4 linked regions of the Homo sapiens genome follow. The protein of the gene in region 2 interacts with the protein of the main gene of each other region in a pairwise test. Each region holds a gene or a part of one and is shown on either strand. Other genes may lie near its edges. The genes, in order: UBQLN1, APOC4, APOL2 and MAIP1.

Region 1 (7,023 bases), on a different chromosome or scaffold from region 2:
CTGCGCCTGTAATCCCAGCTACTCCAGAGGCTAAGGTGGGAGGATTGCTGCAGCCCAGGAGGTGCAGGTCGCAGTGAGCTGTGATTGCATCCAGCCTGGGCACTTTGTCAAAAGGGAAAGGGAAAGAAAAAAAAAAAAGGGAAAGGCAAAGAGGGGAAAGAGGAAAAAGGGGAAAGGGGGAAGGGGAAGAGGAAAGGGAAAAGGGAAAGGGGAAGAGGAAGGAGGAAAAGGAAAGGGGAAAGGAGAAAGGGAAAGAAAAAAGAAACCCAGAAAAGAAAACAGAAAGCACCTAACAGACCTTGAGACATTAAGAAGTTTGGGGACAACCTAATAAAACAGGTTTAAACTGGCGATCATCTTTATATAATGGCACATTATTAGTAAAACCAATGTATGTTTGTAGATGCAACCACATTATTAGGGGGTCCATATTCTTTAGCCATATTTACGAGATATATATATATGTAACACAAGCTACCGCAGGAGGTGGTGTCATGGGTGGAGTTAAGGTAGTTAGGACTTTTTTCCAGTCAAAAGACAGACTAGAATACAGCTGCCCTGGAGGTACTTGGGATAATCAAGTTTCCATTCCTCCCTAAGAACTTTTTTAAAGCAAAATCTATTTCAAATGATTTTCAAATAGGAACAAAAAAAATGCATTTTTAAAGGCAATTTCTAAAAAATAAGACTTTAGGTTGTAGCATGTCTTCTCTACAACCGTAACAACGTTTCCTTTAGTGTCTCAGCACCAAAGTCAACAATTTTTGTAATGCCTGTTTTCTTACTCAATATCCTTAAGACTGTATTTTTCATTAATCTAAACACCTAAGAACTACTGCTTTCCTTTTTTCTCCCTTTTTCCTTCTTTTTGGAAATTTCTAAATTTCCAACATTAAGGAATACAAAACTTGAATGGAAAAGAACTGATACCTGAGGATTTACTCCAGCAAGAGCCTGCAGCATCTGCTGAATAAACTGCTGATGTCCAGGTTCAGTGGTTCCTGCTGTGGGACTTGTGTTTTCACTAGGTGTGGCGTTAGATCCATTAGTTCCCGAAGAGCCTCCAGTGCTTCCTAATGCCCCCAAGCCAGGAGTAAACCTACAGAAAGCACAAATAGGAAATATCCTAAGGTCCTGCAAAACCAGAAGCCAGTCCGTAAATCAGTTACATTTTAATATAAGCTAAGCCATCTTCTTAAAATAAGCCCTTTTGGCCTGGTGCAGTGGCTCATTCTGGGAGACCGATGATCCCAGCAGCCCAGGAATTTGAGATCAGCTTAGGCAACATTGTTGAGACTTCATCTCTACAAAAAATAAAAACAAAATTAGCTGGGTGTGCTGGTGCACACCTGTAGTATCAGTTACTTGGCAGGCTGAGGTAAGAGGATTGCTTTAGCCCAGGAGGTAGAGGCTGAAGTGAGCTGAGATCGCGCCACTGCACTCCAGTCTGCTCGATGGAGTGAGACTATCTCTAAAAGGAATTTAAAAAATAATAATAATCATTTTTAACTTTGAAAACCCTGACTTAAAAACAATCATAGCCAGGCACTGTGTCCCAACTACTGGGGAGGCTGAGGTGGGAGGATCACCTGAGCTTAGAAGTTCAAGTTCAGCCAGGGTAAAAGAGCAAAAACCGATCTCTTAATAAATAAATAAGTAAATAAATAAATAAAAACGGTGGGGGAGAACCAGGTGCTATGGCTCATGTCTCTGATCCCACTTTGGGAGGCCAAATCTCTTGAGCCCAGAAGTTTGAGACCAGCCTGGATAACATGGCAAAGCTCCATCTCTAAAAACAGTAACAACAACAAATTATATATATAAATTAGCTAGGTGTGGTGGTGCACACCTGTAGTCCCAGCTACTTGGGAGGCTGAGGTGAGAGAATCCCTTGAGCCCGAGAGGTCGAGGCTGCAGTGAGCCACAACTGCGCCCCCACACTCATAGCCTAGGCGAAGGGCGAGACCCTGTATCCCACCAAAAAAAAAAAAAAAAAAAAAAAGGCAGGCAGAATAATACTAAATCTGAAATTCTCAGAGAAAGTAACCATTATACACTTTCATTATCTTCCCCAAATAAGCCTACCCTGGGATGAGGCCCGGGGCTTCCGTTGCTAATGTCTGTAAACCCTGCTGAATCTGTAACAAGGCCTGCATTGCTCTAGGGTTTGACATTGCTGATAGTGTATCAGGATTCTGCATCTAAGGAAGAAAGAAAACTAGTGGTTACAAAGGAATTAAAATCAGTGAACGTAAATTTTTAAATCTTTTCTCTGTTATGCTTCTGGAGAAAATCTAAAACCTTACTCCTGGACACTGGTAATCCATAATTTCTTTCCCAAAATAAACGCAAGTATCTCCTCTTTGACAGCAAACCTAGTGTGCAAATTATTACTTGACCTCCTCCTAAGTCCATCATGAAAGCCATTTCCATAATGGAAGAAAATCAGGAGCTACTTTGGAAGCCACAACTATTCCCCTTCTCCAACAGAAGATAAAGTATTACTTCTAAGACACAACCTCCAAAGGCACAATTCTTACGACGTGGATATGGTAAAAAGCCACATATTCCACCTAACCAAGTGTTATCTGTTACTAATATAACAATTTTACCAGTAAGGTACACTCTAAAACAACAGTTCCAAATTTGACGTTAATACATGTATCCTGAGTTTAGCTTTACTACTTCCAAATATACACCACCTGACTAACCAAAGATAGGCTTACATCATTACAATAGATCAAGGACACCAACCTTGGAAAATGGTTTACAGGTCTGAGAGTCATTTGCATAATACATGAGGCCCTAGAACTACCAGTTTCAAAACACCAAGACTGACTTCTCTTTTGTCGTTTTAAATAATAAAATACCATGGCAATCTCAAGTACTCGTTTATACTATAACCTTCCTTACTTCCTTATATGACAACACTGACTATTTTAATCTTACTAATCCCGAGTTTGAGGAAATGAGATCTACCCCTTGGGGAAAAAAAGCCTTCTACTAATTTGGAAGAAAACCTATAAAATAGAATAGGGTAGCTCTTTCCTGTTACTCAAAATTAGTTAAACCATAAAGCGTAACATGACACAAGGAAGCACTTCAAAGTTAGTACAATGAAAGGAAATGGTTTATGGTATTAACAAAGCATTCAAAATCCTAGGTCCTCAAAAGCAAAAACAAAATGTTCTTTCCTCAGAATGTATGTTTAAGAAACATAAGCAAAAGGTCAGCAGTGAAATGGGACTCAGTGAAGATCAAGCTGAATTCTCTACGAATTGACAGCATTATTGGTCTCTATTCTATGTTTTGCTATCAGCCAGAGAAGAGCAAGGAAAAATGTTTATCATCAAATTTTTTCAAGCAAATCATTACCCAAGATAGCTAACATCTTGTCTTACTCACTTGTTGGAGGAAAGTTGGGAGCTGTTGTCTCATTTGTTCTTGAAGCTGAGGATTTCCAGCAAATAGGGGATTATTCAGCATCATCTATGGGGCAAGTGTTCAAACAATTTTAACTGGAAATATCTGAAACAAGTAATGTACCTTGTTTTATTCTATCTTCCCCCAAGTGCCTCAGCTGGCACTTAAAAGGGAGGAAGGTAGAACATAAATAAAAAAAGGAAAAGGGAAGATACTGTCCACAAGAGGGATCTCCAGAAGAACAAAAACAAAAAAATGAGGCATATTCTCTCTCAATGAGAATGGTGGTTATGATAATGACATGCAATATCCTAAAAAATAAAAGCAATCATTTTCTTAGGCTTTTCCTTGAACAAACGTGAATATATGCCATTGAAAGAAAAATGGGAGTAACTGGCATTCATGAAGATATATTTTCTACTACACTGGCAGAATAAACATAAACATCAATACATGAACTATGTAACATGGCTTGCTTAGAAACCTCAACACACAAGTGGCAGGCACAGAGAAAATCTAGATCTGAAAAGGACCACTACATCTACCTGCCTACTACAAAACAGCTAATATTAGGTCCAAAAAAATAACACCGCAAAACAGCAACCAACTTGCCAGAGAAATGGAGCTGCTAGGTGAAAATCAGTCAGGCCTAGCACCAACAGTCCTCTGGGAAAAGTATTAAAATGATTTAAGACCTAAAAGATGTAAATCCATTTGAGAACACCAAGATTAGCATCTGGATTTCACCTCACTACTACCAGAGATGAGAAAAGTGGCATCTCCTAAACTTCAAATAAACGTTAAGAATTTAAAAATCAGGATCATTATTAGTATGATGTCATATACCTGAAAATAAGATTAAAATACACAAGGAGCATAACCAGAGCTAATAAATTCTTGTAGCTTCAAAAGACACATTTTATATCATTTTCCCCAGGCGGAGTAAAAAGTCAACTAACAAGGATTTACTGATAGCCTATTTATCTATCCAAAGTCTGGGGAGGAAATGATCCTTGCCCTCAAGAAGTTAACCGTATTTAAGAGCAATGTAAATGCTGGTAGAGAAAATTCGCCCCAATTCTTGCAAAGTGATCTTTTAGTTAATTTCAATACAATAACAAAAGCAGATGTCAGACAACCTTTCAGGAACATACAGTATTTATTTCAAAGTGACCAGTAAGTTCACAGTAAGTAAACTCATACAGGCTTAAGGTCAACAAACCTGCTTCTTTATTGGTTCCAAATACTTATCATCAACATATTAACGAGGTTATCACACATATCTTTTGGAATTCACTTCATTTCATCTTAAAAAAGCATGTCATCTTAAACGTATCCTTTCACAGATAATCATCTTATTAGATACTTCTTATAACTTACCTGAGTGCTTATACCACAAGTTTTTACACTCAAGAGTCTTTTTAAATATTTAAAAATCAAAAGAATAGAAAAACCACAAATTTTAATCTGCAGATAACAAGAACATTGTAAAAGTTTCTAAATTATCTGTAATAAAAGACATGCCAATCTAGTACTAGCAACATTTTGTTTTAGAGTAAAAAAATAGTATGTGAGTGCTCAAGTCACTTTACTAAAGTAAGATTATTACAAAATTGCTACGCATGTGCTTGTTAAAGTCAAATTTTAAAAGCAAGATGCACATTCAGTATTAGCCAAATACACACTTAAAATGGCTTATTATGGTAAATTGAAGCATTTAATACTAACAACTCAGTCTGATAAGTTTCATATGCATAAATCAATCTTCCATAAAATGTACCTCCAATATACAGAATCACAGACACAAAAATTCTTCTTAAAATTTGTTATTTCCAATTCCACAAATTTGGTGAGGGCATAAGTTATTACTGAGAATTATACACAAAGATACCTGAATCAATATAGTTTTAGAATTTAGAAAATAAAAACCATTCATTTGACTTAAAGCTTTTAAAATTTAAGGGATGAGATTAACTATAAAGTCTTCCAAATTCCTGACACACTACAGAAGCCATTTTTAACGAACAGCAAATATAAACTACAGATTATCAAGGTTTATTTCACATTCTCCGTGGTTTTTCAAGCCCTGTGGTATGGAACCTAGATAGTACCTAGGCAACTTGAGGGAGAAAGGGTTATCGGACGCAATTATCTCAAAATCTCTAAGGATGAGGCCCCAACCATCGGTACTGTCTATAAAGCTTCCCAAGTGATCCTGAGTGTTCAGCCAGCATTAAGATCCCCAATTTTCTTAGCTGTGGTCTCTTTAGAAACAAATTAGAAAAAGGAATACATTAATAAGGGACCTGTATACGATTTTCAGCAGGGGAATCAATAGTTGAAAGAAGGAGAACATTGTTCTGACAAATTCCCGTCTTTAATAAATGCTATTTTACAACTGCCATTCTGAGCATGACTATTATAATCTGAGTGATCTACTAAATAAAAGTATTTCAAATGTATTAACATTGCTCTTAATTGCTTTCAAGATTTACATTTCATTAAGTAGTTTATCTTCAAAAGAGTGGGCATTCCAGAACTCTGTACTTGTCTCCTAACTCAACATATGTAGAAACAAACTAAACCTGCACTTCTTTCTAGTCAATGAATGGCAGAGATAAAGTTGTTTTAATTACATATGAAGTATTAATTTACTGCAAAGAAACACACGGTCTAAAAAATTGGAGACACAGTTTACTTATTTTTCTAGTGTATTAAGATATCATACACAACACAAATGTGCCAAAATCACAATTACAAGATTAGGTTATTTTAATTCACACTGCACAGTCTTTTTCAATACAATTACAAACTCACCTGTGCAGCAAGGTCAGGATTCTGGCTTAGTGACTGCATCATGCTTCTCATGTAGGGGGCAGACAACATGTTTTGCATCAGTTGTGGGTTTTCAGTTATTTGTTGCAACAAGCTCTGCATTCCTGGTGTGTTGAACATACTAGCTGAAAGTTTGTTTTTAAAAAAGACATATTAAGGAAAAATACTTAAACAAAAGTTAAAGCTTTAAAATATAATATGCACTGTGTTTAATTTCACCAAGTACAAATGATTATACATATTATGTATCAACTGAACTACGAAAGAACTTTAAAACTAAAACATCTCTAAAAGTACATGCCCAACATATACCAGGAAAAGAGGACTGATGAGTTTAAACATTCTGCATTTACAGTAAAATCTTGTCTAATGAAGAGCTAGCTTCTGAAGTCAACTTAAGGCAAAAATTACGTATGGTCAAAATTACTGCTGAAAAATTCCATAAAGTGAAAAGGACTGAGCCAACTTTTCCTCCAAGACTGCAAAGAATTAATTAGAATCATATTCGGCACTTAATATTGCCCACCCTTATGAAAGAAGTAAGCCTTCATGCCCAAGGCAACAAAAGATGTAATGCCTCCACCCATTTTCACTGTGTACTGCCACTCACTGAGTAAAATGGTAGGCACATTTAACATTTGAAACCATAGAGCACAGTGACTCCAAGCAGTATCAGGAGCCTGATTACGTGGGTTCAAATCTAATCTAACCCATGTGATCTTGGGCAAGTTATCTAGCGTCTTCATACTTCAGGTTCCCCATCTG
Region 2 (7,119 bases):
GATCCTGCCACCAGGGATTACAGGCACGAGCCACCATGCTGGCCCTTGTTTTTTGTTGTTTTTTTTTTTTTTTTTTGAGACGGAGTCTCGCTTTGTCGCCCAGGCTGGAGTGCAGTGGCGGGATCTCGGCTCACTGCAAGCTCCGCCTCCCGGGTTCACGCCATTCTCCTGCCTCAGCCTCCCAAGTAGCTGGGACTACAGGCGCCCGCCACTATGACCGGCTAATTTTTTTGTATTTTTAGTAGAGACGGGGTTTCACCGTTTTAGCCGGGATGGTCTCGATCTCCTGACCTCGTGATCCGCCCGCCTCGGCCTCCCAAAGTGCTGGGATTACAGGCGTGAGCCACCGCGCCCGGCCTGTTTTTTTTTTTTTTTTTGAGACTGAGTCTCGCACTGTCGCCCAGGCTGGAGTGCAGTGGCGCGATCTCGGCTCACTGCAACCTCCACCTTCCAGGTTCAAGCAATTCTCCTGCCTCAGCCTCCTGAGTAGCTGAGATTACAGGTGCCCACCACGATGCCCAGCTAACTTTTTTTTTTTTTTTGGTATTTTTAGTAGAGACGGGGGTTTCACCATGTTGGTCAGGCTGGTCTCGAACTCCTGACCTCGTGATCCGCCCGCCTTGGCCTCCCAAAGTGATGGGATTACAGGCGTGAGCCACCGTGCCCAGCTTTTTTTTTTTTTTTTTAAGAGACGGGGTCTTACTATGTTGCCCAGGCTGGACTCTCAAACTCCTGGGCTCAAGGAATCCTTCTACCACAGCTTTCTGAGTAGCTGGGGCTACAAGCCCCTGCCACAGTACCTGGCTGTTTTTGTTTTTTTATAATTGTGGTAAAATATAAACAACATGGCCGGGTGTGGTGGCTCACGCCTGTAATCTCAACACTCTGGGAGGTTGAGGTGGGAGGATTACTTGAACCCAGGAGTTCAAGACCAGTCTGGGCAACTTGGCAAAACTGTGTTTCTACAAAAAATAAAAATATTAGCTGGGCAGCCAGGCGCAGTGGCTCATGCCTGCAATCCCAGCACTTTGGGAGGCTGAGGTGGATGGATCACCTGAGAGGTCAGGAGTTTGAGACCACCCTGGCCAACATGGTGAAAACCTGTCTCTTTAAAAATACAAAAAAATGAGCCAGCCATGGTGGCTCACGCCTGTAATCCCAGCACTTTGAGAGGCCAAGGCAGGTGGATCACCTGAGGTCAGGAGTTCAAGACCAACCTGGCCAACATTGTGAAACCCCGTCTCTACTAAAAATACAAAAAATTAGCTGGGCATGGTGGCAGGCGCTTATAATTCCAGCTACTAAGGAGGCTGAGGCCGGAGAATCGCTTGAACCCGGGAGGCGGAGGTTGCAGTGAGTCAAGATCGCACCATTGCACTCCAGCCTGGGCAACAAGAGCGAAACTATGTCTCAAATACATACATACATACAAAAAATTAGCCGGGTGTGGTTGCCGCACACCTGTAATCCCAGCTACGCGGGAGGCTGAAGCAGGAGAATCGCTGGAACCCGGGAGGCAGAGGTTGCAGTGAGCCAAGATCACACCATTGCACTCTATCCTGGGTGACGGAGTGAGACTCTGCCTCAAAAAAAAAAAAAAAAAAAAAAAAACTTAACCATTGCAGCCATTTTTAGGTGTACAGTTCAGTGGCATTAAGTACATTCACACTGTTGTGCAACCATCCCCACTATTTGCAGGATGTCTTCGTCATCCCAAACAGAAACTCTGGGTGTTTTCAATCTGCTGATGATTGCTACAGAGGAATTCCAGGGGACATCTGTTGCGCACCTACTGTGCTCACGCTGGGGCCTCTGGGATGGACAGGATTCTGCCAAGGCAGACATCTGGGTCAAGACAGTCCTGCACAGTTGTTCAGGTTGTGGCCAAGGTTGCGTTTGCAGATTTGCCATGTAAAAATACAGGATGCTCAGTTACATTTGAATTTCAGATTAATAGCAAAAAAAACTTTTTGGTATAATTCTGAAATATTTCATGGGACATATTTATACTAAAACGTCATGCACTGTTGATTTGAAATTCAAATGTAATTGGGCCTCCTCTATTTCGTCTGGCAAGCGTAGACAAAAGAATCCAGTCCAGGCCAGGCGCAGTGGCTCAAGCCTGTAATCCCAGCACTTTGGGAGGCCGAGGCGGGCGGATCACGAGGTCAGGAGATCGAGACCATCCTGGCTAACACGGTGAAACCCCGTCTCTACTAAAAATACAAAAAATTAGCTGGGCGTGGTGGCGGGTGCCTGTAGTCCCAGCTACTCGGGAGGCTGAGGCAGGAGAATGGCGTGAACCTGGGAGGCGGAGCTTGCAGTGAGCCGAGATCGCGCCACAGCACTCCAGCCTGGGCGACAGAGCCAGACTCTGTCTCAAAAAAAAAAAAAAGAATCCAGTCCATAGTCCCCTGAGCCATGTGCCCTGGGGTGCAGCTGGGTCCTTCAGGAGAAAAATGCTCTATTTCTGGCACTGGGACCGAGCCTGATGTGGGTTTTTTGTTGGTTTTTGTTGTTGTTATTGTTTTTGAGACAAGGTCTCGCTCCACCACACCCGGCTAATTTTTGTATTTTTAGTAGAGACGGGGTTTCACTACGTTGGCCAGGCTGGTCTTGAACTCCTGACCTCAAGTGAGCCGCCTGCCTCGGCCTCCCAAAGTGCTGGGATTACAGGTGGGAGCCACCGCCCTGGCCCTGGGCCTGATGTTGATGACCTCCTACTATGTGCACCTGCAGCTCTCCTGCATAGGCCTCAGCCGTCCTGCATGAGGACACTGGGAGGCAGGTGCTCCCTATCAACCCCGTGTTACAGTTGAACAAACTGAGCCCCAGAAAAGAAAACGTATTTGCCCAGGTCACACGGTGAAGAAGTGAGGGATTCGAAGCCCAGGTCCATCTGAAGCCAGAGTCACCCAGAGGAGAAAGAGTTGGAATTGAGAACTCAAGGAATGCTTGGAAGTGATCGGGCTCGAGCCCACCTAGGAAGAAACAGAGGCTGGAGACATGAGACTGTGTTGCTATTTCCTCTCATCAACCCTTGGGCCCTATTGAGGCCCTACCACAAGCCTGGCCCTGCAGCCCAGTGACTAGGAGAAATTAGACACAAGATAATAATAACAGCAATGATCTTTTTTTTTTTTCTGAGACGGAGTCTTGCTCTTTCGCCCAGGCTGGACTGCAGTGGCGCGATCTCGGCTCAATGCAAGCTCCACCTCCCAGGTTCACGCCATTCTCCTGCCTCAGCCTCCCGAGTAGCTAGGACTACAGGCGCCTGCCACCACGCCTGGCTAATTTTTCATATTTTTAGTAGAGATGGGGTTTCACCGTGTTAGCCAAGATGGTCTCAATCTCCTGACCTCGTGATCCGCCTGCCTCGGCCTCCCAAAGTGTTGGGGTTACAGGCATGAGCCACCGCGCCTGGCCAACAGCAATGATCTTTGAGCACCTATATTGCCAGTCTCCACGGTAAGAGCTTTCTTCATTTTTTGTTTTGTTTTGTTTCAAGACAGAGTCTTGCTCTGTCACCCAGGCTGGAGTGCAGTGGTGTGATCGCGGCTCACTGCAGCCTTCACTTCCCGGGTTCAAGCCATTCTCCTGCCTCAGCCTCCCAAGTAGCTGGGATTACAGGCACGCATCACTACTTCTGGCTAATTTTTGTATTTTTAGTAGGGACAGGGTTTTTCACCATGTTGGCCAGGTTGGTCTCAAACTCCTGGCCTCATATGATCTGCCCACCTCGGCCTCCCAAAGTGCTGGGATTACAGGCGTGAGCCACTGCGCCTTTCTTTGTATTTGTTCAAGTAATATACTGAAATATGTACTGTGCCTCCCACTTTATGGAGGAGGAAACTGAGGCCAGCAAATGAGGCTGTCATGGGAGGTGGAGACAGGATTTGAACCTGCCTCAGTGCAGGAGGCTCAAGAGCCTCTGTCTTCTCTCAGGGCACTGTGTGGGAGGGTGAGAAGGAGGGAGGCCCACAGAGGCATGACCTCTGATTGCCACTGTCACCTGGGCCCTGCTCTCTGAAGTCTCTGCCAAGCGGGGAGGTGGCCGGGGGAGGGCCCTGCTCTGTGCAGCCTCCCCTCCCCCGGCCCGCAGAGTTGAGCACAGAGGGACAGAGGCACGGAACCCCCAGAAATGTCCCTCCTCAGAAACAGGCTCCAGGCCCTGCCTGCCCTGTGCCTCTGCGTGCTGGTCCTGGCCTGCATTGGGGGTGAGAAGAAGTGGGTGGAGGGATGTGGGGCCCACACCTGGTGGGTGTGAGTGTGGCTGTGTGTCCTGTGGCTCTGTAGCCACGTGAGACATGAGTACGGAGTGTGTGCGTTTCATGGCGTGCGTATGCATGTGCGTGTCGGGGAGTGTGTGTGTCGGTGGCTGAGAGTGAAGTGTGAATGTCACATTGGTACAAACTGGGATCATCTGTGTGTGTGCACGTGCGTGCGTGGAAGTGGGAGTATGCAGTCGTGGTAAAAAAGTGCATGTCTGTGTGCATATGTGTATTTGTGTGCACCTGTCTCTCTGTGGGGTATGTGTGTGCAAAATATTTGAGTGTGTGGACATGTGTGAGGGGGTGAGTGTGTGCTGGTGTGTACGTCTGTGTTTTGCATATGCATTTTTTTTTTTTTTTTTGAGACGGAGTCTCACTCTGTCACCCAGGCTGGAGTGCAGTGGTAGCAGTGGTGCGATCTTGGCTCACTGCATCATCCGCCTACCCGTTTCAAGGGATTCTCCTGCCTCAGTCTTCAGAGTATTTGGGACTACAGACACACGCCACCATGCCTGGCTAATTTTTTTTTTTTGAGACGGAGTCTCGCTCTGTTACCCAGGCTGGAGTGCAGTGGCGTGATCTTGGCTCACTGCAACGTCCGCCTCCCGGGTTCACGCCATTCTCCTGCCTCAGCCTCCCGAGTAGCTGGGACTACAGGAGCCCACCACCACGCCTGGCTAATTTTTTGTATTTTTACTAGAGACGGGGTTTCGCCGTGTTAGCCAGGATGGTCTCCATATCCTGACCTCGTGATCCGCCTGCCTCGGCCTTCCAAAGTGCTAGGATTATAGGCGTGAGCCACTGCGCCTGGCCAATGCCTGGCTAATTTTTTTATATTTTTGGTAGAGACAGGGTTTTGCCATGTTGCCCAGGCTGGTCTTGAAATCCTGACCTCAGGTGATCCGCCCGCCTTGGCCTCCCAAAGTGCTGGGATTACAGGCATGAGCCACCACGCCCGGCCATGTACTTTATGTTAAAATGGGATCATATTCTAGATCAGCATTATCCAGTAGAAATTTAAATTTTTAATACAGGGCCAGGCACGGTGGCTCATGCCTGTAATCCCAGCACTTTCGGAGGCCGAGGCGGGTGGATCGCAAGGTCAGGAGATTTGAGATCATCCTGGCTAACAGATGGGTAAAAACCCATCTCTACTAAAAATACAAAAAATTAGCCATGCATGGTGGCATGCGCCTGTAGTCCCAGCTACTCGGGAGGCTGAGGCCGGAGAATCACTTGAACCCGGGAGGCAGAGGTTGCAGTGAGCCGAGATCGCGCCACTGCATTCCAACCTGGGTGACAGAGCGAGACTCCGTCTGAAAAAAAAAAAAAATTTAACACGTATGTAGACAATGTGCAAGGCACCATTCCATGTGCATCGTATGTAGTAACTCTTAATTCTCACGATAACCCTGAGGTAGATATTATTACCCCGTTCTACAAAAGGAGAAACAGTCCTGGGGAGACAGGATAAGTCACCGGCCAAGGCACACAGCTAGCTACATGTGGCCCCCGCGTGACGGCTGGTCTCTGTAGGCGAGGCTTTGTCCAGATGCGTGGGTAGAAGGTCTGGCCCGGAAAGAGGAACTGACAGCAAGGCTAAGCCAATGTCTGCCCCTGGGGGCAGAAAGTCACCTCCTGCTCTCCCTCCACTGTCCACAGAGGTAGCTCAGACAGGGTGGGGGTCACAGGAGAACGAAGGGAGAAGGGGGTAGTTCCTGGGCAGCAAAATCAGGTGGTGAAGGGAGGCATCAGAGGATGGCAATTAGAGAGGCCATTAGAGGGGAACCACAGGCAGACAGGGTGACAGGAGGGACTACTGACACAAGGTGAAGAGATGGCCCAGCCGGACGGGGTGGCTCACATCTGTAATCCCAGCATTTTGGGAGCCCGAGGTGGGTGGATCACTTGAGGTCAGGAGTTCGAGGCCCCAACATGGCAAAACCCCATCTCTTCTAAAAATACAAAAATTAGCCGGGCATGATGGCAGATGCCTGTAATCCCTGCTACTCGGGAGGCTGAGGCAGGAAAATTGCCTGAATCCAGGAGGTGGAGGTTGCAATGAGACGAGATCATGACACTGCACTCCACCCTGGGCAACAGAGCAAGAGACTGACTCTGTCTCATAAAAAAAAAGAAAAAAGAAAAAAAAAAAGAGATGGCTGATGGTTAAAGAGGGGTTAGCGGTCAGGGGACACATAAGGGTAAAGGCAGGAGGCAAGAGGACTGGCAGGGGGCTGCCCCTGGGCCACCGGGAGCGACACAGGATGAGCATGGAGGGAAAGGGAGAAGGGGATTCTAGGGTCCCAGCCTACCCAAGTTGCCCTCTGGTTCCACCTAGCATGCCAGCCAGAGGCCCAGGAAGGAACCCTGAGCCCCCCACCAAAGCTAAAGATGAGTCGCTGGAGCCTGGTGAGGGGCAGGATGAAGGAGCTGCTGGAGACAGTGGTGAACAGGACCAGAGACGGGTGGCAATGGTTCTGGTGAGGGTGTGCTGGGCTGGGTGGTGGGAGGGGACTCCTGGGTCTGAGGGAGGAGGGGCTGGGGCCTGGACCCCTGAGTCTCAGGGAGGAGGAAAGGGTGGGAGTGGGGCTGTGACCCCTAGGTCTGGGAGGAGTGGAGGGTTAGAGCTGAGAGCAGGAACTCCTAGGTCACAGAGAGGAGCGGATAAATGGGGCAGAGAACACCTGGGGAGAGCTGGGGCCTCCACTGTGATGTCCTCTCTCCTGTAGGAGCCCGAGCACCTTCCGGGGCTTCATGCAGACCTACTATGACGACCACCTGAGGGACCTGGGTCCGCTCACCAAGGCCTGGTTCCTCGAATCCAAAGACAGCCTCTTGAAGAAGA
Region 3 (7,497 bases), on a different chromosome or scaffold from region 2:
TAAGTAATAATGATAATACCGATTCAGGCCCATCCCAGTTAGGGGCGGCTCCAAAATCACCATTGTTCTTTTCTCACCTTGTGTCTCTGCGCACTCCCCGGCACACCCACTTCCAGCAGCTGGTCTTTGTTTGCAGACTTTATTTTAACAGCTCAGTGGTTCCCGGGCATCCTCCAGCTCTTATACAAAAGCCCCCTCCTCAAAAGCCACTCGCCTCCCTCTTTCCACTTCCCACCTCTGTTTCAGGGTCGAGGCATCCAGATATCTGTCTTCTGGGGCCCCTACGCAGCAAGACTAAAAGGGGGACCCAGTCCTGGGCAGCAGTTCACCAGGGGAGTATGCAGAGGGGCATCTGGACACTTCTTGCTGTAAGGGACGGGGTGACGGGAGGGGGTCTTCCCTTCCCCTTCTTCCTGCTTTGTTCACTCTGTGACACCCTAGGCCAGGGGAGCTGTCTCAACGCCATCTCATGAGCCATGAGAACCAGGAGGACCAGGAGGGAGAAGAGGAGCAGGAGGGCAGACAGAGCTGGGGCCTCGGACCTGCCCAATACTTGTGAGGAGCTGCATCCAGGATCCCATCCTCCTGGGTCATTGTTGGCCTGGCTCCCACCTTTGTCTGGAGCCTCTGCTGGGGGTTGAGGCTGGATACTGCCCCTCAGGCTTGACTAGGACACAGTGTGTACTCCATGGGTGAGCCTGCAGGCTGGTCAATTCCGGTGTCCAACTGAGCGACCTGGAAGAGGAGCCCTCCCTCCCACCTCAGCTCTGAGCCAAGCTCTCCAGATGCAGAGGACAGGGACTCTCAGCAAAGCATCTCCCTCCAAGTGGTTGTGGGGCATCCTCCTTGGGCAGGGAAAGAGGAGTCGAAATGATTTCCTGAGAAATCGTCATTTTCATTTTATTTTTGAGAAACTGTCTTGCTCTGTCACCCAGTCTGGAGTGCTTTGGGGCTATCACAGCTTGCTGTAGCCTAGAGCCCCTGGGCTCAAGTGATCCTTCTGCCTCAGCCTTCCAGGTAGCTGGGACTACAGGCACACGGCACCATGCAGGACTAATTTGTTAATTTTTCATTTCAGAGAGACAGCATCTCCTGTGTTGCCCAAGCTGTCTTGAGCTCCTAGCATCATGTGATTCTCCCGCCTCTGCCTCCCACAGCACTGAATTACAGGCCTCAGCCGTGGCACTGCACCCTTCTGAGGAATCTTCAGTGAAAAGCCACGGTCAAGTTCAAACCCCATAGCAGGGCACACAGGCCCTCTGATGCTCTGGACCCCACCTTCCTCACCGCTCCCTGCCACCACAGTCACCTTAGGTCCAGGCACCCACTGACGCCCTGCTTCGGTGCCTCCTGGAGCCCATCTACTCCTCCCACTCCCATCCCCAGCCTCAGGCCTTCACTCAGCTGCTCCCTCGCCCTGGAATGTCCCCCCCACTGTCCCCACCATGTGCAAGTCACCTGTCCTCAGAGACCCACCCAAAGCTGCCTGGTCCATGCGGCGGCCCCCAACCCTCCCCAGGCTCCCTGAGCACTCTGCTTTCCAGAGGGAGCTCTACCTGTATGTGGCTCTTTGGGCCTCTGTCTCCCCTTTAGACTCTGAACATTCAATGGGGACACTGTTGTGTTCCCAGCTGCACCCCCTACGACTGACCTGGATGCCCTCCGCCCTCCCTGGCACAGCCTGGCTGAAATCCCAGGTGCAGGAGGCATTACTTGAACTAAAAGCAACCAGCCTCTGGATGACATGGCCCAGCTTCAGTTTCACTTTCAGTTGAGAAATTGAATTTAATTTTTCTTTCTATCTTGATGGGCATCTCTTTTTGGTGAAGAACAAATAAGACCATGACTCATATTTCACAGAAATTACCCCCCTGATTTCATGGACTTTTGGCAGCTCTATCAAGTTTTTTAGAGGGGAAAAATCTTAGGCTGGGAGGGGAGGTGACTTGCCCAGAGTCACACAGCTCTTGGAGGGCAGAGGGGAGGCCAACATCTGCCCTTGTGACTCTGATATTGAAGCAAAAATGGGTGATTTTAATAATCCAACAGTGTCCAGGTTTGATTCTGCTTCTACAAACACAGAGACCTAAGCTCTCACTCCTGTAGTTATACTCACAATTCCACAGTGTGGCTTTTGAATCTCATGATTGCAAAGCTGGCATCATGCCACAGGTACCATTCTGCAATGCGACCTTCTCACTCCCCTGTCTCAGCCATGTTTCCCATTAGGGACACAGCACAGCCTGTTTCTTCTCTATCAGCTCAGAGGTCTGAACAGAGGGACAGAGGTGAGGGCCAGAGACGTGAAGTCCTATGATCTGCCTGCTCAGCCTCCTGACACGGGACCCTGGCAAGTCATTCCCCTCCCAGGGCCTCAGTTTCCCCACAGGGCCTGGCACAAGTAGGTGCTCAGACTCAGGGTGAGTGAGACAACCTCTGAGTTCCTTGTGTCTCAAAAGAAATCTGTTGTTCCCATTGGGCTTCAGCAGCAGCACCCTGGGGCCAGCCTGGGTGTGGCCCGGCCACAAGGACATGCCGGGCTCCAGGTCACCTCCCCTCCTCCACCTTCTTTGATTCCTTCAAATTTCCCAAAGAGATGGGCACCCCCAACACCTACCTTTCTTCTGGGGTCAGCTGGCCGTGTCTGAGGGTGTCAGAACCAGAGCTGAGCCCGGGGAGCTTTGTGAACCCATCTAAGCTGTTTTCCCCACCTCTCTCTACAGTTTACCCGCCCAGCAGGAGGGAGGGAGCAATCAGACTCAAGCCTGGGTGCAAATCCCGGCTCTGCCACTGCTTTCCTGTCTGATCTGAACCAGCTACCTAACCTCTCTGAGCTTATCTACAAAAGCTGAATGATCCTTCCCTTATAGAGCTATTGCAAGAATAAGGACATGGGGGTAGATCACACTATCCCCAACTTACCAAGGGATCTTCCTCTGACAGAGACTGAGCAAGATCCAACTGTTCTGAGCTGTGTGGATCCCACGTCCAGCTGTGCATCTGTGTAATAACCAGACACGTCCTCCGGCCTCCCAGATATACCCTGGAATTCGAAAGGGAAAGTGAAAGTCACAACTTCCCAGCAGCTCATGACCAAGCACAGTAAACACGCTGCTCCCCAGCACCACCTGCAGTCCAGGCCCAGCCTCCTTGCTGCTGCACTTAGAGGAGCAGCCGCAGACCAGACATCCGGGTCCCTCTCATCCAACCCACCTGCCTCACATCCTCAGGATTCAAGGTCTGCTGTGTCAGCTGCCCATGTCTCAGGCAGTCAGAACCAGAGTTGAGCCTGGGGAGTTTTTTGAACCCATCTGAGCCGCTTGCCCCCCAACCCCCGCCCCGATCTCTGCAGTTTAAGGGCACAGCAGGTGGGGGAGAGAAGTCAGACTCAAGCCTCAGTGCAATTCCAGGCTCTGCCCCTGTTTTACTGTCTGATCTGAACTAGTTACCTAACCTTTCTGAGCTCAAGAAAGACCTGCCACTGACTGACCGTGGGGCTCTCCAGATTACTCCCCGTCCTTCCGTTCCCCCACATTCCTCAGATGCCTGCCTTACTCCCACACATGCCATCAGCATCAGCACAGTCCCCCACACATGCTGGGTGGATGCTTATTGCATATTTATTGTAATGCTTCTGAGGTTATGTTTTCTGTTATGTTTTTGATATAGAGTCTTGCTCTGTAGCCCAGGCTGGAGAGCAGTGGCACAATCATAGCTACTTCAAGTGGCACAATCAAGCCATCCTCCCATCTCAGCTTCCGAGTAGCTGGGATTACAGGTGCCTGCCACTACACCCAGCTAATTTTTTGTAATTTTAGTAGAGATGGGGTTTCACCATCTTGGCCAGGCTGGTCTTGAACTCCTGACCTCAAGTGATCCACCTGCCTTGGCCTCCCAAAGTGCTGGGATTACAGGTGTGAGCCACGGCGCCCAGCCCATTGTATCCTTCTTGTGACTTTGTGTCTTCATAGCTTAGCTCCTACTAATAAATGAGAACATACAATATTTGGTTTTCCATTCCTGAGTTACTTCACTCAGAATAATGGTGTCCAACTTCATCCAGATTGTTACGGATGCCATTATTCCCTTCCTTTTTACAGCTGAGTAATATTCCATGGCATATACATATATAGGGGTGTGTGTGTGTGTGTGTGTGTGTGTATATACACACACATTTTCTTCATCCACTTGTTGGCTGATGAGCATTTAGGTTGGTTCCATATTTTTTCGGTTGCAAATTATGCAGCTATAAACATGCATGTGCGAGTATCTTTTTTATATAATAACTTTTCTCCTCTGGGTAGATACCCGGTAGTGGGATTACTGGATCAAATGGTATTCTACTTTTAGTTTTTTAAGGAGTTGCCATACTGTTTTCCATAGTGGTTGTACTAGTTTACATTCCCACCACCAGTGTAAAAGTTTTCCCTTGTCACCATATTCACACCATTTTAGCTAGGCTGGTCTTGAACTCCTGACCTCAAGTGATCCACCTGCTTTGGCCTCCCAAAGTGCTGGGATTACAGGTGTGAGCCACTGCACCCTTCTATTCTTCTTTGATTTTTAAATTATGGCCATTCTTGCAGGAGTAAGGTGGCAACTTATTGCAGTTTTAATTTGCATTTCTCTGATAATTAGTGACGTTGAGCACATTTTCATATTTTTTTGGCCATTTCATTTTGTATATCTTCTTTTGAGAATTGTCTATTCATGTCCTTTGCCCACTTTTTGATGGGATTATTTTTTTTTTCTTGCTGATTTGTTTGAGTTCCTTGTAGAAACTGGATATTAGTCCTTTGTCAAATGCACAGTTTGCAAATATTTTCTCCCACTTTGAGGGTTGTCTGTTTTCTCTGCTGATTATTTATTTTGCTGTGCAGAAGCTTTTTACTTTAATTAGGTCCCATCTCTTTATTTTTGTTTTCGTTGCATTTATTTTTGGGTTCTTGGTCCTGAATTCTTTGCCTAAGCCAATGTCTGGAGGAGTTTTTCCGATGTTATCTTCTAGAATTTTTATGGTTTCAGGTTTTAGATTTAAGTCTTTGATCCATCTTGAGTTGATTTTTGTATGAGGATACTGTTTCATTCTTCTACATGTGGCTTGCCAATTATCCTGGCACCATTTGTTGAATAGGGTGTCCTTTCCGCACTATACGTTTTTCTTTGCTTTGTCAAAGACTAGTTAGCTGAAAGTATTTGGCTTTATTTCTGGGTTCTCTATTCTGTTCCCTTGATCTATGTGCCTATTTTTATACCGGTACCATTCTGCCATTATGTACCTTTTTTTTTTTTTTTTTTTTTTTTTTTTGAGATGGAGTCTCTCTCTGTCACCCAAGCTGGAGTGCAGTGGTGCGATCTTGGCTCGCTGCAAGCTCCACCTCCTGGGTTCATGCTATTCTCCTGCCTCAGCCTCCCGAGTAGCTGGGACTACAGGCGCCCACCACCACACCTGGCTAATTTTTTTTTTTTTTTTTTTTTGTATTTTAGTAGAGATGGGGTTTCACTGTGTTAGCCAGGATGGTCTCGATCTCCTGACCTCGTGATCTGCCTGCCTTAGCCTCCCAAGGTGCTGGGATTACAGATGTGAGCCACTGCACCCAGCCCTTGTACCTTTTAAGTGAACCATTTAGCCCATTTTCATTCAATGTTAGTATTGAGATATAAAGTGCTGTTCTATTCATCAGGCAAGTTGTTGCCTAAATACCTTATTTTTTTCATTGTGTTATTGTTTTATAGGCCCTAAGGCTTATAAAACAATATGCTGTAAGGAGGTTCTATTTTGGTGTATTTCGAGGTTTTGTTTCAAGACTTAGAACTCCGTTTAGCATTTCTTGTAGTACTGGCTTGGTAGTGGCGAATTCTTTCAGCATTTGTTTGTCTGAAAAAGACTTTATCTCTCCTTCATTTATGAAGCTTGGTTTTGCTGGATACAAAATTCTTGACTAACAATTATTTTGTTTAAGGAGGCTAACAACAGGACTCCAGTCCCTTCTGGCTTGTATGGTTTCTGCTGATAAATTAGCTGTTAATCTCATAGATTTTCCTTTACAGGTTACCTTATGCTTTTGTCTCACAGCTCTTAAGATTATTTCCTTCTTCTTGACTTTAGATACCCTGATGACATGTGCCTAGGTGAGGATCATTTTGTGATGAATTTCCCAGATGTTCTTTGAACTTCTTGTATCTGGATATCTAGATCTCTAGCAAGGCCAAGGAAGTTTTCCTCAATTATTCCCTCAAATAAGTTTTCCAAACTTTTAGATTTCTCTTCATCCTCAGCAACACCAATTATTCTTAAATTTGGCCATTTAACATAATCTCAAATTTCTTGGAGGCTTTGCTCATTTTTTAAAATTCTTTTTTCTTTGTCTTTGTCTGATTGGGTTAATTTGAAAGCTGTGTCTTCAAGCTCTGAAGTTCTTTCTTCTACTTGTTCTAGTCTATTGTTGAAACTTTCCAGTGCCTTTTGTATTTCTTTCAGTGTGTCTTTCATTTCCAGAAGCTGTGATTGTTTTTTCTTTGTGATATCTATTTCTCTGGAGAATTTTCATCCATATTCTGTATTTTTTAAAATTTCTTTAAGTTGGTTTTCACCTTCCTCTGCTATCTCCTTGAATAGCTTAATAATCAACCTTCTAAATTCTTTATATGGCAATTCAGAGATTTTTTGTTGGCTTGTATCTATTGCTGGGGAGCTAGCAATAGCTTTGGGGGGTGTTATAGAAATATGTTTTGTCATATTACCAGAATTACTTTTCCGGTTCCTTCTCATTTGGGTAGACTATTTCAGTGGAAAGATCTGAAACTCAACTCCTTCTGTTCAGGTTCTTTTGTCCCACGGGTTATTCCTTGATGTGGTACTCTCCTTCTCCTAGGAATAGGGCTTCCTGAGAGCCAGACTGCAGTGATTGTTATTGCTCTTCTGGGTATAGCCACCCACTGGGGCTATACCAGCCTTTGGGTTGGTGCTGGGGAATGTCTGCAAAGAGTCCTGTGATGTGATCATCTTCTGGTCTCCTAGCCATGGATACCAGCACCTACTCTGGTGTAGGTGACAGGCGAGTGAAGTAGACTCCGTGAGAGTCATTGGTTGTAGTTCTCTTTAGTGTGCTGTTTTCTCCAATGCTGGTTATGCTAGCAGTGAAGCTGTCATGTGGAGAGACTGAGGACCTCTGGTCAGTCAGGATGTTGCGGGCAGTGGTATTAGCTCTTGTCTTCTCCTTCCTGGGAATAGGGTTATTCTGTCATGAGTTGCTGTAATGGCCTGAGTTGGTTGGTCTCCAGCCAGGAAGTGGCACTTTCAAGAGAGCACCAGCTGCGGTAGTAGAAGGGAGATACAAGCTTGCCCTAGGTTGACCAGGGTAAGTATTCTAGTTTCTCAGGTGATTGGCAGGGCCATAAAGCTCCCACGAGTTTATGTCTTTTGTGTTCAGCTACCAGGATAAGTAGAGAAATACCATCAGGTGGAGGGCAGGGTTAGCTGGGTCTGAGCTCAGA
Region 4 (7,531 bases), on a different chromosome or scaffold from region 2:
CATGTTTATTTCAATGTTTAAGATTAGAAATGTTTTGGGTCTTTATTTACAAGTTTGGTGATATTTTTGTGACCAGAAATATGCCACTGGAACTTAACTCTTGTTTGTATCAATTAGCCTGTGGTAAAACTGGTTTCATTATAGGTCATTTCCCTTAAAGTTGCAGCTTCCAAGAACCTACTGAGAACGTTAAATGAGGACTTACTGTACTAACTAGAATTCAGTTTGTTTTCAGTTTTTTGTGTCTTAGATTGAGGACATATAATTAAAGTATTGTGTTTAAAAAAAGTGACTTGGGTAACTTCTCCCTCTCCCACTTAAACAGATTCATGTGTTACTTTTTATATTCTATATTAGGGTCTTTTAAAAAATAATTTTTCATCCTTGTTGATTTTATTATTATGACTTTAGAATGTAAAACATCCATGTGATTCCCCAAATCAAAACTATACAAAAGTCACCCCATCCACATTCTTCCATTTCATACTCACACATCCCCTATGCATAACTGATCTCATTAATTTTTGGCTTATTCCTTTCTTTTTTGCAAAGTGATCAAAAACATATATTTCATTATCTCTTCCCCTTGTTTTTTACATAAATAGTAGCTTACCATATATTTTCTTCTGTTGTGTGCTTTTTAAAAAATTCATAAATATATGGCTGGGTGCAGTGGCTCACGCTTGTAATCCCAGCACTTTGGGAGGCCGAGGCAGGCGGATCACAAAGTCAGGAGATCGAGACCATCCTGGCTAACACAGTGAAACCCCATCTCTACTAAAAATACAAAAAAATTAGCCGGGTGTGGTGGCGGGCACCTGTAGTCCCAGCTACTCAGGAGGCTGAGGCAGGAGAATGGCATGAACCCGGGAGACGGAGCTTGCAGTGAGCTGAGATCGTGCCACTGCACTCCAGCCTGGGTGACAGAGCAAGACTCCGTCTCAAAAAAAAAAAAAAATCATAAATATATCCTAGAAATCACCACTTATCAGTTCAGATATCGCCTTTATTCTTTTTTACATCTTAGTATACCTCAGTGTAAATGGGCCATAATTTATTCAATTATTCTCGCCTGCATAAGCATTTAGGTTATTTCCAATAATTTGCAAGTACAGTAACACTACGTAAATATTTACACATTTTTGGAGGTATATCTCCAGAATAAATTCCTAAATGAGGAATTACTGGGTCATAAAGTGAACATAGTTAGATATGCCAACAGAGTTGTACCATTTGGTATAAAATTTGAGTATGCCAGTTTCTTCAGGGCATCACCAAGAGAGTATTACCAGAGCTTTTTAAATTTTTGCCAATATGATATATAAGAAGTTGTATCTCAGTGTAGCTTTATTTCTCTTATGAGTAAACTTAAACTTCCTAGTTTAAAGGCCATTTTAATGTTTTTTCCCCCCTCAATCGTTTGCTCATTTTTCTACCAGATTTTCAGCCTTTTACCCCCTTTTGAAAGTTCTTTCCATACAAGGGCTTTTACTGTCCTTTATATGAGATAAATGTTGCAAATATTTTCTCCCACTTTGTATTTGTCTTTCAAATTTGCTTACAGTGTTTCTGGCATACAAATGTTTCATGCAGTCAAATTTTAATCTAATATTACACCTGAATTTTGAGTCATAGCTAGAAATGCCTTCCATAGACCTAGATTATAGGGGAATTTACCCATATTTTCTACTAGCACTTGTGTAGCTTCATTTTGTTTTGTATTGCCGAGTGTACTCACAACTTGTGTAGTTTCATTTCTTTACATTTTTCTGATCCACTTGGAGTTTATTCTTGTGTACAGTGTGAGATATAAACCGAATTTTATCATTTTCTAAGTGAAACTCCTCTGTATAATACCATAATGGTGGATTCATTTCATTATAAATTTGCCCAAACCCATAGAATGTACAATATCAATAGTATACCCTAATATAAACTATGAATTTTGGGTGAAAATGATGTGCCAGGCTGGGCGCGGTGGCTCACGCCTGTAATCCCAGCACTTTGGGAAGCTGAGATGGGCGGATCACCTGAGGTCAGGAGTTTGAGACCAGCCTGGCCAACATGGCGAAACTCCGCCTCTACTAAAAAATACAAAAATTAGCCGGACGTCGGGGCGGGTGCCTGTAGTCCTGGCTACTCAGGAGGCTGAGGCAGGAGAATCGCTTGAACCCTGAAGGCAGAGGTTAACGTGAGCCGAGACTGTGCCACTGTACTCCAGCCTGGGCGATAAGAGCAAAACTCCATTTCAAAAAAAAAGAAAAAGAAAATGATGTGCCAATGTAGGTTTATCAATTGTAACAAATATACCACTCTAATGAGGGGATGTTGATCATGGAGGAGGCTATCCATGTGTCAGGGCAGAAAGGACATGAGAAATCTCTGTACCTTTGGTCAATTGTGCTGTGAACCTATAAAGCCTCGAAAAAACAGTCTATTTTTTAAAAAGTCATTTTGTGCCTTATTGATTTTTGAAATGTCATGCTTATTATACACTAAATTTCCATAGGAATAGGTATTTCTGCACTTTCTATTCTATTCCCTTGGTCTATCTATTCATGTACCTGTACAATATACAGTGTTAATTATGGAGTTATTAGAAAATGTTTAACAAAAAACTCATAGCACTATGCCCCCTCATACTTTTTAGTGTTTCCAGATAGAAAGGTCTTTTTTTCCAATTTTGTTATTAATTTCTAGTTTTACTGCCCATGGCCAGAGAAAGTTGTTTGTAATTTTCGACTTTTTAAAATGTAATGATGCTTTGTGCTGTATGTCTTGTCTGAAGAGATTAAATTACAAAATACCTTTTGCTATGACTCTTACAAAGCACTTCCACATACCCTAATCTTCACAACACTGCCCTTTAGGCAACTTACGTCTAGCACATTCTGAGATAGGGGGTGTCTAAGGACAGGGAGAGCAAGAACAACCCATCTAGTACAAGTCTCCAAACTAATAAAGGCTTGAATCCTCTCCCGTAGGTTGCTATCAAAAGAAAAACTTCATTCCTCCCGCATCCCCCCAACCCCGCCTTTTTTTTTTTTAAGCTAGGGTCTCACCCTCTCGCCCATGCTGGAGCAGTGGCAGGATCATGGATCACTGCAGCCTCGACCTCCCGGGCTCAAGCAGATCCTCCGACCTCAGCCTCCAGAGTAGCTGGGAATACAGGCGTGCGCCACCACGCCCGGCTAATTTTTGTATTTTTTGTACAGACGGGGATTCACCATATTGGCCAGGCTGGTCTTGAACTCCTGACCTCAAGTGATCCACCGACCTGGGCCTCCCAAAATGTTAGGATTACTGGCATGAACCACGGCGCCCAGCCCATCCGACTTTTGTAACACTCAGAATTGTAGTTTTGTTTGTTTGTTTGAGACCGAGTTTAGCTCTTGTTGCCCAGGCTGGAGTGCAGTGGCGCGATCTCGGCTCACTGCAACCTCCGCCTCCCGGGTTCAAGCGATTCTCCTGCCTCAGCCTCCCGAGTAGCTGGGATTACAGGTATGGGCCACCACCATGCCCGGCTAATTTTGTATTTTTAGTAGAGATGGGATTTCTACTGGCTGGTCTTGAACTCCTGACCTCCGGTGATCCGTCCGCCTCGGCCTCGCAAAGTGCTGGGATTACAGGCGTGAGCCACCGCGCCCGGCCCCAGAACTGTAATTCTATGACCACCCTTATAAATGTAAATATCAGGTAAGAAAATTGCTGGGTATTTTTCCTACCATAAACTGACTTACTGTAATCCTGTGGATTTTTCCTTTTAATACCTTGTTTTTCTTAGGTCTGGACTCCCTTGAAAAGCACTGCAAGTAAAAGCACTTTTTGTTTCCCTAATATTTCTCTATGAGTTTTCTTTTAAAGACCTAAGGTTCTAACTACAGGTATAAAAGACTCCAATGTCGGAACTAGAACCTAAGTAAGTTAGAATTCAAGACGAGTAGGAGTTTTCCGGGGGAATCCCATTGCTTTCCTTTTTGGCTCAGTGGAGTGAAAAGTTGTGCCTTCAAATCCATTAATTCGGAGCAGACTGACAGATGCGGAGTAAAGAGTTTAGGCAAAATACCTCTCGCACTCAGCTCTCCGCCATCATCTTGCTCCCCAGAAACATGGGACTTTCTCCGGAAATTTCAATAGAGGAGCCAGTCGGCGTCCCCCGTGCACCTTTCCCTTGGTCTAAGGGCCAACCAGTGATCTGCTGCCGTCCTGCGCCTCTTTCCCACACCCTGGGTCTCTAAAAACCAGTTCCCAGCTGTCCGAAAGGTAAAGACGTGTCTCTCGCTGGTTTCTCGAGGTTCTGCCCCGCGCGAGGGCCTCACCTGTGGGTAGAGGTGCTGCATGAACTGCTCCCGAGAAACGCCCTCCAGCCGGGGTACCGGGAGGTGCTGCCCGGCCATGGTTGCTCACGCCTGCCCTCTTCCAGGTCTTCGGAACTTCGGCTCTAAAGCGTTCCTCAGCGCCATCCGCCCGGAAACACGAGCGACAGAGAAAAGGTCCGCGAGGCCGGCAGACTCCAGAGTGGCTGGGTCCGAGCGCGGGGCGGGTTGCCGAAGGGCCTCGGCCTGGGCTGCGTGCTGGAGAGCGGGGACGGGGCCGACTCACCAGAGGCTGCAGCAACAGGTCCACTTTGCTCTCCAGTCTCTTTCTCCGACACCGCTGAGGCGGTTTCCCACCGACTTCCTTTCCATACAGCACCGGCAGGCACCGGTGTGAAGGGTCATAAAAATGGCGCTGGCCGCTCGTTTGCTACCCCAGTTCCTGCACTCTCGGTCGCTGCCCTGCGGGGCCGTCCGACTCCGGACTCCTGCTGTGGCCGAGGTGAGGCTGCCGTCGGCCACACTTTGCTACTTCTGCCGCTGTCGCCTCGGCTTGGGAGCGGCGTTATTTCCACGAAGCGCTAGGGCCTTGGCAGCCTCGGCGCTACCTGCCCAGGGCTCCCGGTGGCCAGTGCTCAGCAGCCCGGGACTCCCCGCAGCCTTCGCTTCTTTCCCTGCCTGCCCTCAGCGCAGCTACAGCACGGAGGAGAAGCCCCAGCAGCACCAGAAAACCAAGATGATCGTCCTGGGATTCTCCAACCCCATCAACTGGGTTAGGACTCGAATTAAGGCCTTCCTTATCTGGGCCTATTTCGACAAAGAGTTCAGCATCACAGAGTTCTCCGAGGGAGCGAAGCAGGTTTGTTTATTTCCCTGATTGACCTATCCGTCTCTAATGAGTTCAACTATTGCTCGCAGAAGTGCTTAGCAGTGAGTTTTCTTCACTGGGATACAAGTGATCAAACGTGATTAGTGGCCCAGACATAGAGCCTTCCAGCCATTGCTTGACTTAAAGTAAGCTTCTGGGCCGGGAATGGTGGTACACGCCTGTAGTCTCAGCTACTTGGGAGGCTGAAGGGGAGGATCGCTTGAACCCAGGAGTTGGACGTTGTAGTGAGCTGTGATCGTGCCATTGCACTCCAGCCTGGGATACAGAGCCAGGCCCTGTCTCAGAAAGAAAAAGCTATATGGCTCATCTTGTCTGAACATAATTTTCAAATTTACAAAGTGGGCAAGACAATGCCTGGCACATAGTAGGCACTCCATGAATGTTTGCTGAATACATTAATAAATGGGTAAGATTGAAGAATAATTGAGATAACATTTCCAAAGTGCTGTAATGTCACCTTGGGTAGAAGAGCAGAACTTCCTGCCAGCTATTAGACAGAGCCGACCAATACACCACCCCATACTCCGTAAAGATTAAACTGGAGATGAGCAATTTTACCCTTTCAAAGGATTTGCTGAGACTGCCTGGTGGCTAAGTGCACAGCACCCTGCACACAGAAAATATTTAGCCTTTAGAGATTCTTATCCCTGACTTTGTTAGTTACGTACCTGTTTCTGAATGGCTGATTATACCTTGCCTTACCCTTGTGACATATGGTCACTTGGGTCCTGAGATTATTTGTAGATTTTGTGGGTACATGCTTTTTTTTTTTTTTTTTGGACTCCTTTACAGATTGTATCGTTCCCAAACATTGCAGAACTGCTGATAACAATAGAAGTCGGCCAGGCATGGCGGCTCACGCCTGTAATCCCAGTACTTTGGGAGGCCGAGGCAGGTGGATCACAAGGTCAGGAGTTCGAGACCAGCCTGGCCAATATGGTGAAACAGTGTCTCTTCTAAAAATACAAAAATTAGGCGTGGCGAGCCCCTGTAGTCCCACCTACTCTGGAGGCTGAGGCAGGAGAATTGCATGAACCCGGGAGGTGGAGGTTGCAGTGAACCAAGATTGCGCCACTGCACTCCAGCCTGGGTGACAGAGCGAGACTCCGTCTCAAAAAACAAAAACAAACAAAAAAACCACAATAGAAGTCAGAAAGTTTATTTCCCGCTTCATACCTCCATATGCCTTAAAACCATGCTATTGGTGTAATCATTTTACAGTATTGGTTGTATACTGGTATTGATATTTTACTCCAAATTTATTTCAGATTCTTTCCATAATCATGGCCATTTGTATTTATAAGACCAATCAGTTGTAAATCAAATGTTTTCAACTTTGTTTAATAAGTGTCAGTATTAACTCCTGCTGCCTGCTTCTCTGAGTCAACTCTTGACTACTATATATATTTATATAAAAAAAGTCAAAGAACAAACTTGATTAAGATGCTTAACTCAGCATTATAATTGATAAACCTCTGCTCTTGTCAGTTCTCAAAGTCTTTTGTCCATGCAGTGGTAAGTTGTATTGATCCTACTGTTCTGTACAATGCCCACTGATGATATATGAGCTTGTCCACCTCATAACACATATGATGGTACCAGTTCATTTATGTTTCAGTAAGGAATGGAAATCATCTCCCCACCATGGGCAGGCATCAGGCCTCAGTACTTGTTTCCTCTGAACACACAGAGGAGCATGCAGCATTTTTGGGGTCACTCCAGTCCTAGTGGTCCTCCAGCTGTTAGCTATTTTCACCTCCTTCCTTGCTATTAAGCAGTATTTCCACCCCATTCATCAGCCAGCCTGTAAGCATTGTTGCTTATATAAAGCAAACAACCTGAATTTCAGTATCAAGGTGTCGGAGGGGTTGTTTTCTCCTGAGGCCTCTCTCAGCTTACAGATGGCCGTCTTCTTGCTGTGTCCTTGCATGGTCCTCCCTGTGCATGCGTGCTCCTGGTGGCTCTTACTCCACATTTGCTCCTCTTATAAGGATGCCAGTCAGATTGGATTTTGGCCCACCCTGATGGTCTCATTTAACTTAATCATCTCTTTAAGGCTTTATCTCCAAATATAGTCACATTTCAAGGTTCTGGGGGTTAGAGCTTCAGCATAAATTTTCGGGGAAGGAGAGCACAATTCATCCTATAACAGTTAGGCAGTATTCTCTGACATGCCATATCTGACATGCCTGTGCATCCTCTGGCAGCCTAGATTTCAGCTTAGATGTTTCTTCCTTTAGGAAGCCCTCTCTGATCCTCCCAGATTGGGTTAGAAGGCTCTTCTGTATGCTCCCAAGTCATCCTGTTCTTATCCCTGTCAAAATTC

What was found.
Region 1: the proteins of APOC4 (region 2) and UBQLN1 interact in binary tests that used the Homo sapiens proteins (3 or more experiments, as listed by UniProt).
Region 3: the proteins of APOC4 (region 2) and APOL2 interact in binary tests that used the Homo sapiens proteins (3 or more experiments, as listed by UniProt).
Region 4: the proteins of APOC4 (region 2) and MAIP1 interact in binary tests that used the Homo sapiens proteins (3 or more experiments, as listed by UniProt).

What each region holds. Positions count from the first base shown.
Region 1 is NC_000009.12:83,662,945-83,669,967, forward strand, and holds part of UBQLN1 (ubiquilin-1), read right to left. Parts: intron 6,384-7,023; coding exon 6,241-6,383; intron 5,688-6,240; coding exon of another isoform or gene 5,586-5,687; exon of another isoform or gene 4,564-5,585; intron 3,490-4,563; coding exon 3,406-3,489; intron 2,202-3,405; coding exon 2,086-2,201; intron 1,100-2,085; coding exon 931-1,099; intron 1-930. UniProt on the Homo sapiens protein: Plays an important role in the regulation of different protein degradation mechanisms and pathways including ubiquitin-proteasome system (UPS), autophagy and endoplasmic reticulum-associated protein degradation (ERAD) pathway.
Region 2 is NC_000019.10:44,938,137-44,945,255, forward strand, and holds the start of APOC4 (apolipoprotein C-IV precursor), read left to right. Parts: upstream 1-4,100; 5' UTR 4,101-4,141; coding exon 4,142-4,217; intron 4,218-6,612; coding exon 6,613-6,754; intron 6,755-7,003; coding exon 7,004-7,119. UniProt on the Homo sapiens protein: May participate in lipoprotein metabolism.
Region 3 is NC_000022.11:36,236,519-36,244,015, forward strand, and holds the start of APOL2 (apolipoprotein L2), read right to left. Parts: upstream 3,010-7,497; 5' UTR 2,923-3,009; exon of another isoform or gene 2,618-2,922; intron 331-2,617; exon of another isoform or gene 78-330; intron 1-77.
Region 4 is NC_000002.12:199,951,074-199,958,604, forward strand, and holds the start of MAIP1 (m-AAA protease-interacting protein 1, mitochondrial isoform 1 precursor), read left to right. Parts: upstream 1-4,508; 5' UTR 4,509-4,725; coding exon 4,726-5,175; intron 5,176-7,531. Other genes in the region: TYW5 (tRNA wybutosine-synthesizing protein 5), read right to left, coding at 4,320-4,397. UniProt on the Homo sapiens protein: Promotes sorting of SMDT1/EMRE in mitochondria by ensuring its maturation.